Regions from separate parts of the Homo sapiens genome. Here region 1 is linked to region 2. The links come from fine-mapping of genetic effects on gene expression. A gene starts in region 2. The other region holds a variant in brackets. All regions are shown on one strand. Distances are between the middles of the regions. Region 1 overlaps LOC107984559 (a long non-coding RNA gene). Region 2 holds the start of FNDC3A (fibronectin type III domain containing 3A).

Region 1 (8,339 bases), 79 kb before region 2:
ATAAAATAAGAGCATTCCTCCTGGCTGCCACAAAATCCAAATGCTCCATTTTGTTACTAAACACTCCTTCTAACACCAAGCCAAAAATAAGTCACAATGTTAATGCAAACATCTTGCAAGCAAATAAAAGGACTTGTGCCAAATTTATCAGAGTTAGAGGGAAATTGTGTCAGACCTGTCTATGAGAAACTTTCTATTAGATCACCAGTCAATAGGATACCAGCATCTGCTGATCCTGACTGAAAGACATGAGTAATAACAGACAACTTTAGAAAATACATTTTTCTTCCATAGTTAGCAATGCATGACTCACTAGAACTCTCCAGACACTATACTGCATGAATGACTCAAAATTCTACCAAGGACAGAGCACAATCAGTTCTCTCTTCCTGTGCCAGGATTTCTCGTTCCAATTATACTGATTCGTTAGCTTACTTCAAAGACAGAAAATCTTGGTCCATTATCTTTCCTCTTTCAAAAACAGTCATGTATATTTTAATATAAAGACAATTATTAGGGTGCTACAGGAAAACAGAGACTAAACATAATAGCGAATGCTGAAAGCAATCTTCAATTGGTTCAACTCTCATCATTTGGGAGAATGGGTTGGGCAATGACCATGGTTAAGTTTCTTCTGGAAGATTGACCAATGAGAAGAGGTTGTTGCAATACAAGAAATATCGTATTGTGTCACACCAAGAGCCTGCTCATCCAAATCTTCAGTAGCTGATAGTGGTATCAAGGATATTTTGAGAAATATTTCAGTAGTTACTCTCCACGACAGAGGCCTTGTTTCTTTCAAATAACTGTTTTCCTCAATAATTGCAAAAGCCTCCCAGTGAAAGTGCACACCTCTAGGCTCTTTCCTTTTCATTCTATTCTTGGCATTCCATCTCCAGTTTAATATTATTGAAGGATAATTCTGATAATGACATCAACGTAGCATAGTGACTAAGAGAATAGGTCTTGGAATTAGGCCACCCGGCCACCAATTAATTTTTTTTTCTTTCTTTCTTTTTTTTTTTTTTTTTTTTTTTGAGATGGAGTCTCTCTCTGTTGCCCAGGCTAGAGTGCAGTGGTGCAATCTTGGCTCACTGCAACCTCCGCCTCCCCAGGTTCAAGCGATTCTCCTGCCTCAGCTTCCCAAGTAGCTGGGACTACAGGCACCTGCCCCCACACCTGGCTGATTTTTGTAGTTTTAGTAGAGATGGAGTTTCACCATGTTGGCCAGGCTGGTCTCAAACTCCTGACCTCAGGTGATCCATCTGCCTCAGCCTCCCAAAATGCTGGGATTACAGGAGTGAGCCACCACACTTGGTCATCACCAATTATGTTTTTAACCTCTTCATGCCTCAGTTTTCTTATCTGTGACATGGAGTTTGTGAGATGCTTGAATAACTTTTAACTTTGTGTTAAAAATGAGTGTGTAAGCAAACAGAGCATTCATGGTTAAGAGAATAGGTTCTAGAATGACATTTGGGGTTAAATATGTTGGTTCTGCCATTTAACTGTCTGCAAGGCTGAACCAGTTACCTTATTCTGTATAGCAAATCACCCCCAAAACTTTCTGGCTTATGACAGCAATAATCATTTTTTTTGTCTTCCACAGTTTCTGTAGGTCAGATTTGGGGAGCAGCTTGGCTGGGTGGTCTTGGACACAAGGTTTCTCATGAGGTTGCAGTCAGATATTGGCTAGGGCTACAGTCATCTGAAAATTAGACTGGGGTTGGAAGATCTACATTTAAGGCAGCTTACTCACATGACAAGTTGGTGGAGGTTATGGGCAGGGAGATTAATTTCCTTTCACATGGACCTCTCCACTGGTTGCTTGAATGTTCTGATGACATGGCAACTGGCTTACCCCACAGTGACCCAGGAAAGCAAAGCAGCTCCAATGCCTTTATGGCTTCACCTTGCAATTTATATCCCATCAACTCTGCCATGTTCTACTGGTCACACTGTCCACCCCAGATTTAATGTGAAAGGGGACTACTCAAGGCACTGACACCAGAATGTGAAAATCACTGGCAGCTATCTTGGAAAATGACTACCACAAAGATATTGAGCGAGCTACTTTTAGCTCTTTAAACCTTAGTCTCCTTATTCGCGAAATACAGACAATAACAATATACTTATTTCATAGGGGTGTTATGAGAATTGACAAGATGATACATGTAAAGTACTTGGTACCTACTAATTACTCAAAAAAATTACTTATTATTATTATTATAATCCAGTAATAATCAAACTATTCCAGGGGCTGCAATGAGGAAAAGGGTTTTACTTCCGGGGAGTAGATAAAACTGTAAATCTTCCCCGTCTTCTGCCTCATTCTTATTTCTTTCAGTTGACTTCATTTTGTCTCATATGTATTAGGCTTCCTCATAAGCTTTTCATTTGAAGAAAGGATTATTCAGCTTTTTAAAAAAGAAAACTACATTTAAAAAATAAAAGTGTTATTGATCATTATTTATTTCAAGCAGTAAGAATTTTAGTAAAGATAAATGTGTGAATGTATCTTTATAATTTCCATATAGATAGCATTACCTAGCTAATTAGTGATATAGTATGGCTGGAAAGCAGAGAATATCAGATTGTATAAAAGACCACCTAGTCCAGTGTTAAAACCCTTAAGGCTATTAACCCATTTCCACAGCAGTCAGATGGAAGACCTGACATTTGAGGTTGTTGGGTGAATGTATTAGGTAAACTCTTGCACATTCCAAAAGTTGATTTATTCACCATGGTATGTACTCAAGCACTTACTTTCTATGTGCCCTTGTCTAACTGCTGGCTATATATTAGTGAACAAGGTGAATAAACTTCCAGTTTCCATTGAGCTCTCATTTTGTGAAGGAAAAGACAAGGAATAAACAAATAAATGAACACTGTAATTTCAGGCAGTGATAAATGCTATAATAATGAAAAGCAATGATGTGGTAAAGTGACCAAGCAGTTGGAAGACTGGTTTAGCTAGGATGGTCAAGGCAGTGTTCTACAAGAAGATGACATTTGAGCTGAATTTTGAACAATGACAAGGAATCAGCCATATCAGCAATTGACAGAGGAATTCCTAGATATGTACTAACATGGCACCTTGGGAAGCCTGAGCCATCAGGTGACCTCATTCCAATGGAAATCTTACTATTTACTAAAGTTACTGAAATTTGGTTTGAAAGATATTCTGAATAGACTTCTTTCCCTTTGATGATGCATCTTCATAGAGACATTTGGCTAAAGTTGCTGATTAGAGACAATATTTCTGACAAAAAACAATGGAATTGCTGATAGATGGTGTGACTGAGACCAATGCCTCCAAGTTAAAAACCAGTTCAATCTGGGCCACTTTGAAAATATCCTAGAATATCTGAAGGATCAACTTAAGCCTATTTTTCATGGGCTTAAGTTGAAAACAGAAGTCAATACATAGAGGACCCAAGTATAGAACAGATAACATATGCATTCTTGTCTAGTTTCCCTAAGATTTTTCAACCTTCTTTTCACCACCAACCTATACACTTAGAAAGGAGGGGAAGGGGTGTCAAGAAAGAGAAATAAATGAAACATAAAAGACTTAAGGAGGAAAGGAGTAACTACAAAGTAAAATCAAATCTGGAAGGCTGAGGCGGGCAGATTGCTTGAGCCCAAGAGTTAGAAACAAGCTTGGGCAACATAGGGAAAGCCCATCTGTACAAAAAGTACAAAAAATTAGCCAGGTATGGTAGCATGCATCTGGAGACACAGCTATTGGGGAGGCTGAGGTGGGAGGACCCCTTGAGCCTGGGAAGTAGATGTTGTAGTGAGCTGTGATGGTGCCACTGAACTCCACCTTGGGCAACAGAGTGAGACTCCGTCTCAATTAAAAAAAAAAATCAAATCACATTAGAGTTGGAAGAGACCTTAGAGATGGTCCTGTCCGACCCCCTCAGGTTATACATGCACAAACCAAGGCACAAAGAAATTAGGCAACTTCTCAAAGGTACACAGTCAATAGCTAAGTGGCACCCTCACACACCAATGGGAAGAAGAGGTGATAGGGGTGTTCCCTTACTTCCCGTACAGCCTCGGCTTCATATAAGGTGAACGAGGGCCTCTCCATCCTGAATTCTGGGAATGCTCCACCCCTACTTCCCACTCTCAGCAGGTAAAATGCCCTGATCTGTAGAAGAATTGAGTTTGAGTTGCCTGTGAAACATCTACATAGAGATTGCCCAGGAAGCTATTGGACATAAGGGTAAATAACTTAGGAGCAAGATCTCAGCAAAGATGTGGATTCATGAGTCATCAGTGTACAGCTGAAGATAGGTCCAATTACAATACTTCCTGTTTTTACATTATGAATCTGAGACCCAGAAATGTGATGTAACTTGACTGGGGCCATATTAGTAGGTACAGAGCAGGGATTTAGAACCTAGTCTTCCTGACTCCCATGTCTGTGCCCCTTCCAAGAGGGCTTGCTGATATGACTATGTGCTCTGATGAGGAGTGGTAGGAAGGTGTTACAGCAGAGCAATGCTCTTTTAATTTCAATTGCATATTTCTATTTCTAATATATAGCTAAACATAAATATGTCTAATGTGGGTGGCTATACACATTTTGCAGCTTATGCAGCCAACAAATTGCCTACTGACAGGCAACCAGCCACTCACCCTTGTCCTTTGGATATGATTCCAACAAGAAACTCTGTAAAGCTGAGAGAAATCTCATAATGCCTTCCAGATAGTCCCTTCTGGGTCCTGTAATCTAACCAAAAGAGTGCAAGATGCCTGCCAGGTACTGTAATTGGGCCTATCTTTAGCTATCAACTGATGATTTCTTTTATAGGAACCTGGTGACTCCTGACTGTGCTACCCAAGAAGACTGTGTGGAAGGAAGCAGCAGACATCAGCATGTCCATTGCACCAAGACTGGAAGCCCAACCAGTGATTTCTGTAGCAATTTCTGAAGTTGCTGAGCAAGTGGATTGAGAGCTTTTAAGATAACTCTATACTGAGTATCAAACAAAGACCAGAAAACACCTAAGAGTGAATTACTCGTTTCAGCTGCATTATTTTATGGTTTTTAGGACACAATGGAAAACAATGGAAGCTCCACAGCTATTAATTAAAAACTTTGGGGATACCACCAAGAACTTCCCAGGTACGTAATGGTTGGTCCACTGTTCACCCTTCCTTGTTCAAAAAGGATTTCCTGAGCACCTTCTCTGATGCTTGCCTTCCCTCCCTATAGTCTTTTGGTCCTCTCTTTTCTGTGTCTTTGCTTCAAGCCTAAGGAGCTTTTCCCCAGAC[CTTTAT/C]TTTATTTTATTTTATTTTATTTTATTTTATTTTATTTTAGATGGAGTCTTGCTCTGTTGCTCAGGCTGGAATGCAGTGGCATGATCTTGGCTCACTGCAATCTCCAGCTCCTGGGTTCAAGTGAGTCTCCTGCCTCAGCCTCCTGAGTAGTTGGGATTACAGGTGCCCACCATCACACCCAGCTAATTTTTGTATTTTTAGTAAAGATAGGGTTTCACCATGTTAGCCAGGATGGTCTCGATCTCCTGACCTCATGATCCTCCCACCTCCCAAAGTGCTGGGATTATAGGCATGAGCCACAGCACCCAGCTCCCCAGACCTTTCAATATTAACCTAAGACCCAAAGGGTGAGAAATTTATCATTGTTAATACCTTTATTTCTCCTGCAACTCTCAACCACCCCGCTTTCTCTGATACTACATTCCTCTTGCTCATTTCCTGCCTTTCTGATGGCTCTTCTCTGCTCCTGTCATCAACAACCATTCTTTATGCCCTTTCTATAGGACATTTCCCAAGGCTGTTGCATTGGGTCTATTTTCTAAAATTCTTACACTTAATTCCTTGGTGATCTCATCAATTTCGCCCTTGCCCCAACCCAGCTTTAACTATTTGAGGATGACTTCCAAATCCACATCTTCAGTCCTGAACTTCAAGTCATATACATTTTCTAATGCCTGATAAATAATTCTACTGAAAAGTGCTACCAGCACCTCTAACTTAAAAACAAGACTTTTTTATTGTTGACAATAGACCATCCACGATTCTACCCATCCAGACTTGGAACCTTAGAGCCATGGCACCATTCGTTGTAATTTTAATCTCCTGAGTTCACTGTGTGGAGAATAGTATCAACTTCTTAGATGAATTCACAGCTCTACATCTATCTTTCCTACCCCTATCTTTACACTTAATCCAGTCCCAACCTCTCTTTCTTGCCTCACCACTCACATTTCTGTCTTCCCTCCTACCCTAATCCTTTCACCCTACTCTTCCACTTGTGTTGTACCTTGGATTATATTACTCTTTTCTCTTTCATTCCAATATCTTTCCCTTCCCCTTAAAGAGCATTTCTCATCTCTAACTGATAAGATAGGACCCATTCTCAGACCCATCTCAAGTAACATACGCCCAGAAATGGTAAGTTTCCTCCAGTGTGCAGCCACCTATGAGAGAAGATGTAATTTCCTGTCCAAATGCCTTCTCTCTCACTCTCCAAGTTAGTCTACCTCCTGCCCCGGAAATTCTACTTCCTTAATGCTTCTTAAATCTATCCATTTTCCTTTATCTCCTTTACAATACTTTTGTCCAAGTCACTACTGTTTTCACCTAGGCTACTAACATGGCCTTCTGGCTGACCTCCTGGGTCCTCTTTTGCCCGTCTCCAGTTTGTGCCATACAATACATGTTTTTAGAACATGACTCAAGTCGGGCCACCCCTTCAGTGCCTCCCCATAGTGCCCAAACCCTCAAGCCCTTGGTACACTGGATTCTGCCTGCATCTTCAGCCTCTTCAGCATTTTTTTTAAAGACAGCATCTTTCTCTGTCTGAAGTATGGTGGTGGGAGCATAGCTTATTGCAGCCTCAAACTTCTGGGCTCAAGTGATCATCTCACCTCAGCCTCCTGAGTAGCTAAGACTTCAGGCAATGCCATGCCCAGCTATTTTTTATTATTTTCAGTAGCGATGGGGTCTCACTATGTTGTGCAGGCTGGTTTCGAACTCCTGGTCTCAGGTGATCCTCCTGCCTAAGCCTCCCAAAGCACTGGGATTACAGACATGAGCCACTATGCCCATCCTCAGCTTTTTCTCAGTCAGCACCATGCCCATTCCTACTATGGGACACTTATACCTTCTGTTCTCTCTGCCTAAAATTCTCTCCTTCCACTCTGCTCTCCTAGCCTTCAGAACACATCTCAAATATTCCTCCTTTTGAAAAGCCTTCCATGCCTATATTCCCCCAGCTGTCAATGATACTGTGTGTGTACTTTCCCTTCATGGCAATTCTCTCAGTTAATTACAGATGATAGCTAGAGACTTACAATGGGGTTATGTCCCAATAAACCCATCCTAAATTGAAAATGCCATAAGTTGAAAATGCACTTAATACATCTAACTTATTGAACATCATAGCTTTGCCTAGCCTACCTTAAAGGTACTCAGAAAATGTATATTATGTTACAAAATATTCTAACAGAAAGCCAATTTTAAAATAAAGTGTTGAATATTTCATGTAAGTTGTTGAATACTGTACCGATACTGAAAAAGAAAATTATTATATGGGTACTCTGAGTACAGTTTCTACTGAATGGCTATCACTTTAGCACCATCCTAAAGTAAAAAAATTCATAAGTTTAATCATCATAAATTGGGGACCATCTGTATTTTACTATATATTTCTATTACTTGATTCATGTCTGTCTCCCCCACTAGATTAAATGTTCCATGAAGAAAAAGGCTGTATCTGATATGCTCATCATTTTGTCTAAGCTTTTGTTCCAAATTTCCAGCAATGTCTGGACATAGTAAAAGTTACCTAATAGATATCTGTTCATTCAGTGGGTGAATTGTTATTCTCTGCCCTCAGATTTCCTAAGTAAAAAGGAACTCCTTCCTTATACCTATTTCTTTCTGGTAATATTAACTATGGTTTTCTGAAAATAAAAGTGAGAAATTTTAACCCACTTTGTTGAACAAGTCCTATGTGTATAACAACAGCCATAATTCCAGGCTTCAGCTTCTGTTTCAAAAAAGTATTAATGGGTACAAAAACTGGCAAAGAGAGGGAAAATATAGGTGGGTGTAAATGAGGTTAAGGAAAGTACATGTTTTGACTCCACAGCAGAAAGAAGTCATTTATATGTCTTTCCTTCATCCCACCCAACACTAGGTTTCAGAAATTGGAACCAAACTAGGAACTAATAAATGTGATGTTCATAGGTCACAATGACAATGTTTATAAAGTGCTGCTTTCTCCACTCAACCAATTTATTTTAAAGCTCTTCCTGAAAATGATTTATACTAGGTTTTAAACTAAAAAGTTTCAA
Region 2 (8,339 bases):
TGGTCTCAAACTCCTGACCTCATGATCTGCCCACCTTGGCCTCCCAAAGTGCTGGGATTACAGGTATGAGCCACTGCGCTTGGCCCACCCCTGGTGGTTTTAAAGAGAGGTGGCTTTAGGAGTCCCAGAAATTCAGAAAAATGTAGAGAAGGTTCTTGTTAGGGTGAGGGGCCCACAGCAATATAGTGGCAGGGTGTGATCCGAAAAGAATGATGGCTACTGAGAAATTCCCTGTGGTGGGAATGGCCAACATTAAATGTGAAGTCGCTTCCTATTCTGTGTCTTGTTTCCTTTGCTTTTAGGGAAGGAGCTGTTCCATCCATAGGAAAGCACAGAGTGGGATGGAAACGGGAACAGGATCAGAGCAAGTGTGCACCCTGGCCAAGTTCCTTTCCAAGAATCCTTGGAAATGTGGAGGAAGGTTCTGGATTTTCCCAACCTCACCAAATCACAATTAGCCAGGACATCCTAATCATGTAGCTCACATTTATTTATTGAGCATCAAGCATATACCAGGCATCTTCATACATTATGAAATTTAATCCTGCAAAGTAGGTATTTTATCCTTAGTTTATAGTTGAGGAACTGAAGCCAGAAAGGTTGGATAACAAGCCTAAGATCGATCAATCAATCAGTTAGTAATAGAGCTGCGACTGAAGCCCAGATCTACCTGACTCCAAAGCCTGTCTTTCCTGCTCCACATTATACTACACCCCTTCTCAGAGATTAAAAAAAAAAAAGCTCTGGCTGCTTTAACTGGTGTACCTCCAGGTCAACCACTTCCATCTCCTTCTCCTCTTTCAGATTTGCACCTGTTCCCTAACCAAAGAGAGGAACAACAGCAATAGTGTTCTGTCGGGATCTGTTCAGAGTTAAGGCCACCAATATTGTTCAGAGAATTCAGTCAGCACACCCCTCCCACCTCAATCTGCTGTCCCATCTCTCCTCTTCATCACCAAACTTTTTTTTCCAAACTTTCTAAATAGTCTCCACTTGCTGTTTGACTTCTTCATCTTCGTCTTTCTCTTTAACCCACTGTACTTTGTCAAGAACTATGAAAGGTCTGAGATTTCATCCTCCTTGCAAGCTAATCACTTAACCTGCTATAGTTTCATGGAAGCTGGCAGAAGACGTGGGGCTTTGCAGTCAAAGGGCTGTATTACTCATGGCACAGCAAGCAGCGCCAGTGTCATGTTCAGTCAGTTCCCTTGCCCCCAGGTCTTACCTGGAGCTACATGGTGTGGTTCAGGTGAGTGATGCACCTGCAGTGGGTTTGCCTCACAGCTGAGAAACTCTATCTAAGCTTAGGAAATCCCCAATCTTTTTATAATAGGCTGCAAGAAAACCTGCTTGACCTTTACCTCCAAAGACATTATCTTCACTATATTGGATGGTAAACAAATGTGCCCCTGCTCTTGGCGGGGAGGGGGAGCAGGGCAGGGGACACTATGTATATTTTCCAAGGCAGTTTGACCAAAAAAAAAAAAAAATCCTTGAAAATATAGTCTAAAACAAAAGCTGTTAGTGCCTCTGCTCACAAGACATGCAGAAATACTAGAGTCCCACAGAGAATTGTCTTCCAGCACATTTCTGCATTTCTTCCCACTAGTCATACAGAAGATTGCTCTCTTGAAAATGATCAGTGATCTAATTTCCCGATCTAACAACCTTCTAGAATCCCAGAAATAAACTCATAGGACAATAATCATTCAAGAAATATTTATTGGGTAGCTTCTATGTGCCAGGCACTGTGCAGGCCCAAATAGACATGGTCTTTATCCTAATGTGGGGAGCAACAGACATTAACCTAGTAGTTACACATACCAAAATGTAGTTACAAGCTGTGGTAAGTCATAAGAGGGGAGGGTATATGGTGGTAAGAGAGCTGACATAACAAGGTATCTTGAATGTATCTGGGAGGTCAGAAATGTTTTTCCCAAGGATGTCGCTTTCAAGCTGAGACCTGAAGGATGAGTAAGAGATAGGATAACTAAAGGAGAGAATGGCATGTACATAGAGCCTTTGGTTGTTGGGATCATAGCATTTTTGAGAAACTAAAAGAAGACCAGGAAGTCTGCCCAGGAAACAAGGTGAAAATGGTGTGAGATGAGGCTGGAAAAGGCAGGTAAGGCCAGACCTCGTATGGTCTTTTAGGCTGCCTTAAGAATTCTAGACTTATCCTAAAGCAATGAGAAACTGTTTAAGGAGATTTTTGGAGTAGTGACATAGTCTCATTTGCTTTCTTAGAGGATAATTTTGGCTGCAAAATGGAGACTGAATGGAGGATCCCAGATTGTATACAGTGAGATCGAATTAGATTGGTGGTGATTGGAAAGAAGTAGACCAATTAGATTTTAGAAATAAAATTGCCAGGAGTTAGTGCTGCAACAAATATGGAGAATGGAAGAATGGAGGTGAGGGAGACATCAGCGGTTACTGACTACTAGATATTTGATTTGAATAACTAGAGAGATGGGGGATAAGGAAAACAAGTGTTCATGAACTCAGTTGGACTAAACTTTGCAACTTTGAGATATTAAGTGGCCATGTCAGTGAAGCTTGGAATTTAGAGGTAGGGTCAAACTTTGACTAGTGGATCAGATTTGGAATTTAGAGGAAAGGTCTGGGCTGGAGGCATATATGTGGAGATCACTGGCATATAGATGATAACTAAAGCCATTGGCGTGGGTGATGCTGCTTAGGCCAAGAGATTACAATGAAAACAGAAAAGAATCTAAAACTGAATTTTAAGGTACTGTTATATTTAATAGTTAGGGAGACCAGCAGGAATATGCAAAGGAATCAGAGAAGCAGTGCCTAGGAAACTAAGGAGGAAAACCAAGAAAATGCAGTGTCAAAGGAAGAAGAAATGTTTAAGAAAGAATAGTGGTCAAAGTGTTGAGTATTGTTGAGAGGCCAAGAAAGATGAGGATTGAAAATGGCTCCCATTTTATTGATAAAAAAAAAGTGAAGCATTGAGAAGAGAACTTGTTCAAAGCCAACATAATTTCTTGACCCTCTCTCTGTTCCCAGAGAACTCATACTGGTGCACATGCTAGGGTCATTTATGTGTGGGTTTTCTTCTCTCCAAAGGCCATAAATTCCTTGGTCTTCACTTTACTTCACCTTACTGCATTGCATATTATTGACTACAATCTCTAGGTCTTCAATAACATTCTTAAATTATGTGTTAATCTCCTTCAAAAACAGCTGATCTTCTTTACTCTGCCTTTACATGTAGGCATGTCCCAAACATATTTTTTTAAATATAGTTTTTAAAAGTGCCATGTCTTGGCCTCTCCCTGGACAAAGGAATCAGAATCTTGAGGGGGTAGATTGCAGGATTCTGTATTTTCAAAAAGCTCCTGAGTAGGAAGCAGAGTAGGAAAGTATTAGCTTAGCGGTAAGTTTGGAAACCACTATCTTAGTCTCAGACCAAGCATAGTTGGGCAGTAAGATGGGGAAGCCACCCCATTCGCCCACACTCTGATAAAATCCTCATACTTTGAAACAATATACAGTTATACTTCAATTATTCCAAGATCAACTTGCCAGCTGTCTCGAAGAGGGCCAAATCCAAAAGTTAAGAAAAGGAAACATCTCTCACAGGGAAAGAACTTCTGATAGTGAAGAGCAATGAAAATATCTCAAGATACCACTGCCCTATTTACAACCAGAAGAAAAGAAACCTCTCATTAGCTGGCTGTGGACATAAACATCCCATCAATCTTCACCTGGAGCCGCAGAGAAAACCAGCCGAGAAAGGAGAGAAGAATGAAAAATAAACAGTAAAGCAGAAAGAATAAGAGGAAGGATCAGAGTGGATAGAGGCAGATGAGGAGATGAAAAGCAGTGAAGGATTTTAGAAGAGGTGATGAGAACATTCCAAAGAGGGAAAAAAAGAGAGCACCAAAGTAGGGATTCTATACACCGCAGCAATCCTCTGGGACTTAAACGTATGGCCAAGATATCGGTTTGAGAGTCAGTTATCAACAAAGGATTTAATTAGCCATTGTATTCTTTAAGAATATAGAGAATAATCACATTTTAAAGAGATTTCTGTAAAACAGTTTTAAAAATACAGCTATTTTAAAAGATCGCACAATTAATACACTGAAATAAAGCCCAGACATGCAACTTGTTACATCCATCACCATTTTTGAAAGGACAGTTCCTGAGGCTGGACTCACCGGCCCAAGTACTACCCCCTCCCCAGGTCTCCGGCGGCAACTGTAAGTCAAAAGCCCTCAGGCATTATTGCAGCGTCCCACATTGTTTGAGGTTCCAGGAAGTCGCTGCTACGCTCACTTGTAAGTCTTCGTGCTGTTGTAAAAATTGAGGTCGTGGTTTTCCACGCGATTTGGCTGGCGAAGAGACCACGAAGCCACCCCCCACGTTTTCAACTGAGTAAATATCTAAATATTTTTGCTTGCTATCCAGATCCTGGGTTCGAAGTCTTTGGGATTAGAAACTTCCAAGCCCATTTCAGAGGCTTCCTAGTCCTTGGGAGGAGTGTCTTTTAAAGCACCTGCCAGCCTTAAGTTCGCGTGCTTTCGGAAAGGGGCCGACAGGGTGCGTCTCAGGGGAGCCTTTTGAAATGTGGATTGAGAATTGTGTGAGTGTCTCTAGGAACCTCCATTAACTCCACTTTTCCTGAGTGTAGCTCCGAGCCTGGCCACAGCGGATGCTACCACAAGCCAGGCGCAGCCGGGCCTCGGGAGAAAGCCGGAAGCCCGAGAGGGTGTGGGCGCTCCGGGAGCCAAACGCGGCCGCTCAGCCGCCACGCGCCGGTGGCCCCGCGGGGACTCGCGTTCCGGTGAGAGAGCCCCGGCGCGGCGGGCTCGAGGCGGGGGTTCGGGGTCCCGGCCGCGGGCTCCGTCGGCGGGGCCCGCGCAGCCGCACTCGGCGCGCCGACTTCGGGCTCCTCCTCCCGGCTCCGTAGTAAGCATGGCGGCGGCGGCGTTCGTGGTCCCTCGGGTGAAACAGAAAGCGGGAGCTACGCGGAGAGGGAGCGAAGAGCGGGGCTGAGGCGGCGGCGTCACTGCCAGGAAACAACCCCAACAGTCAGCGCGCCGGCGGCCGCGGCGGCCCTGAGAGCTGACTCTGCAGCTGAGGTAGAGAGACAACGATCAGGAACCCTAAGAAGAGGCGCCAGAGGAGCCGCCTTCTGCCTCAGAACGGCGTGACTCGGAGGTGAGAGCGCGGGCACTCCCTCCGCGAAAGGCGGGGGACACCGAGCCGTCCCAACCCCGTCCCGCCCCGGAGGAGGCGCCGCGGAAACCGTTAGGCTGGGACTGAGGGCCGGGGCACTCTCCAGGGCTCGGCCCCGTCGAGGGGCGCGGACCACCCCCTTCTGTGGGCGCGCTGTGGGCAGAGGTGCAGAGGGGCAGTGGGGCCGGGGACAGGACCGGTCTACTAGTCGGGCACCTGCCGGGGCCGAGCCTAGCCAGGACACGCTTGCGGGGGCGCGGCCGGGGGCGCCATCCAGCCCAAGAGGAGGCGGCATCTAGCCCGAGGGAGGTGGCGCTGGTGCGCGGGCGGCCCTTCTCTCTGTCCCCCGCCTCCTCCCCGCGGCGAGCCGCGTAGCTCCGGAGGGCTCGGGGGCGGGGGCGGGGGCGGGGGCTGGGGCGGAATCCTCCTGAGAGGATCGCCCAGCACCCGCGGCGCCTTCGGCTTTGGCCGCCCGGCAGCCGCCGAACTTGAACGCTTTTCTGAAGAGAGTTTTCCCCGCTCATCTTGGGGTTAAAACCTCGAAAACCCGCCCTCTGTTTGATCCTGCGTGGCTGCTTCCAGTACCTGGCAGTTCCTCTCCCCGGGCGAGTTAACCACCTGTTCAGTCGGGAGGTGGACTCGAGGCTGCAGTCCTCGCCCGGTTTTAACAACCTGGATCTTCGAACTTTTGACACGGCTTTGGAAACGACGTCATGTGTTAGGTAAAGGAAAATGAACAGATAATTTCGCTGTCAGATTGCGAGCAGAAGAGGGACTGTTTTAATGGATGTGGTCGTTAATTGTTCTTTTATTCAACTGTTAGCGTTACAAGCCTTGGGATATTTTAGAGGGTGGAATGCGATGATTTGCTGGGGGTGCTAGAGATTGTGAATTCGAGATTTTCTTTTGTGAGATTTTACGTAAGTTCCTTTGGACACCTTTGTGTCTGACCATCTATTAAATAAGAGTCGCAGGCTGATGAGATTTTTTTTTTCTTTTTGCGGTATAATCATTATGTGTTCACTATGGGTTTTTAAAACCGAACAACGTAATTATTTTGCTTCTTACTGTGGTCTGTGTTTTTTAGTTCTTGAAACCAAAGTGTGTATGCTTCTGTATTGTAGGAATGAAATAACAGTTGAACTCTTACTATAATATTTTATCACCATGCTGTTACCAGCTCCAGTACTAAACATACGCCACTCAGGAGTTTGAGCCATATGTTAGGCAGAAACGAATTGAGTTTTGTGGTTCTGATCTTATGTTTGGATAAATATTTAGTTTTTGCGTATTTACTAACTCTTGTCATCTTGTGTCACCCACAAATGTTCAAGTGAGTTGAATCCCCTGTCTTTTGGATATTTTCTTGGTTGAATTAATTTTTCTTAAGTAATGAGATGAAGTACTCACTGAGACAGATGGTGGCCCAACAGAAAACAGTGATGAAGGATTTTTACCACATCTTTTATGAAATATAACCTGAAATGTTGCTTTTAGCTTTGTAGCCTACTAATCTTGCTTTCTAATCACACCAGTTAGTGGGAAGAAGGGATGATGACAGGAGAAACATCTTGTTAAAATTTTAATATTAAATCTTATATTTAAATTTTTTAGCACTACTACATTAAATTTTACTATATTGTCTTGTTTCATTTCATAGATCATCTGTTAGTTTTCTATGTGTAGGTTAACTGGAAAATTTTTTATCCCAGGCTGGCTACCGTTAGCCACCTGTATGCTTCTGAATTAACTCCCTCTTTTTCCCTTTTGTCTGAATCCTCCAAATCATTGAATGCTCCGGAAAAATAAAATCCTGGTTAACACTGTCAAGCATAGTTATAAGGGTAATTAATTTATCCCAAATTAATAATAAGCATTAAAAAAAACATTCTAGGATTATCTTCTTTTGGTGACGTCTGTGTCTTCACTTCCTCTATCTGTGTGAGTAATTGAGACCTGATTTATTTTAACACACATGTAATGATTACTCTTTACTAGTCACATTTCTACAATATAATAGTAAGCATATTTTATTACTAATTTAAAAATTTCTCCCTCTTCCCTGACCAGCCAGACATAGCTAAGGGCTGAGACATCCTTAACCCCCCGAAAAAAAGAGGGAATGCATGATTCATATTCTCATTGTCTTTTGTAGTTTTAGGCAAAGAGCATTTAATTTATACTTTATCAATTTTTAGTAATATTTGCGCTGTTTTAAAACATTTGCATTTTTTAAGATGTTCATGACATCCAAGGCTTGTGTATTTTATAATCTGCCAGTATTTTTAAAATACAATTTGATGAAGTAACCAAAAACGTTTTTTTTTTGAAACATTGTTGGTGCATTTTTGAATGAAAATGAATCTAGATCGTGTCTTTGAGAATGGTGTAGGGATATGCACATGATTTCCAATTTTATTAGCCAGATAACTAAGTGATTAGTGTTTCTGGTTTTTTTTTGTTTGCTTTTGTTTTTTTTGTTTTGTTTTTAGCATTGCCTAGCGGACTTCAAATAAACTCACAATATTGTAATTCCGAAGGTTTAGAATATGGTGCATATTTATTCCATTGAGCCTTTTACTGCTTCAGTTTATCACATTGCAAAACAAGAAATATGGCTCCCATATGTGTGAATGTCAAAAACTACTTGTTAAAACGAAATTAGTGGCCATTAATGTTGAAAGGCAAATTTTGTACTTTTACATGTATTGTGAGCTTTTATAATTTTCTTAATATTTTGGTCTTATTTCAGATAATTATTCAGTGGTCTCTTTTTATATCTTTATTCTTACCTTTCTGTCTTCCCACTGTTGTGGTTTTGCTTGTCTTTAATATATACTTTCAAGTTTTCTGTGTAACCTGTGGTCTTCCATCAAGTTCCTTTGTGGGTGTCATCTTTCAATGTTTCCAATCACTTATCACCCATTACCAGTCCTTGGGCTATTTTTTCCTCCAAGATTGAGAACTACACCTGGGAGATGTCATGTGCTTGCAGGGTGATGCAATGTTATTAAAGTGGGGATACAAACATAGTGTGATGTCTTCCTTCCTTCAAGTAGTTTACAAATTAGTTGGGGGTACTAGACTAATAGTATCATTAGCAAAAATTATAATATGGTATTATTAAG

What was found.
Region 1: its variant is fine-mapped to the expression of FNDC3A in whole blood (INTERVAL, PIP above 0.99).

The regions. Positions count from the first base shown.
Region 1 is chr13:48,892,219-48,900,557 of GRCh38, forward strand. It overlaps LOC107984559 (a long non-coding RNA gene), which reads left to right. Exons shown (of 3, transcript XR_001749987.2): 3 at 4,826-5,217. Among named protein-coding and RNA genes, the nearest start is that of FNDC3A, 80 kb to the right of the region's middle. The variant CTTTAT/C (reference allele first, on the strand shown) is at 5,290.
Region 2 is chr13:48,970,985-48,979,323 of GRCh38, forward strand. FNDC3A (fibronectin type III domain containing 3A) reads left to right here and starts at 4,928. Exons shown (of 26, transcript NM_001079673.2): 1 at 4,928-5,193. RefSeq lists enhancers at 4,133-4,192, 4,463-5,082, 4,893-5,192, 5,083-5,702, 5,863-5,962 and silencers at 4,643-4,912, 5,243-5,722.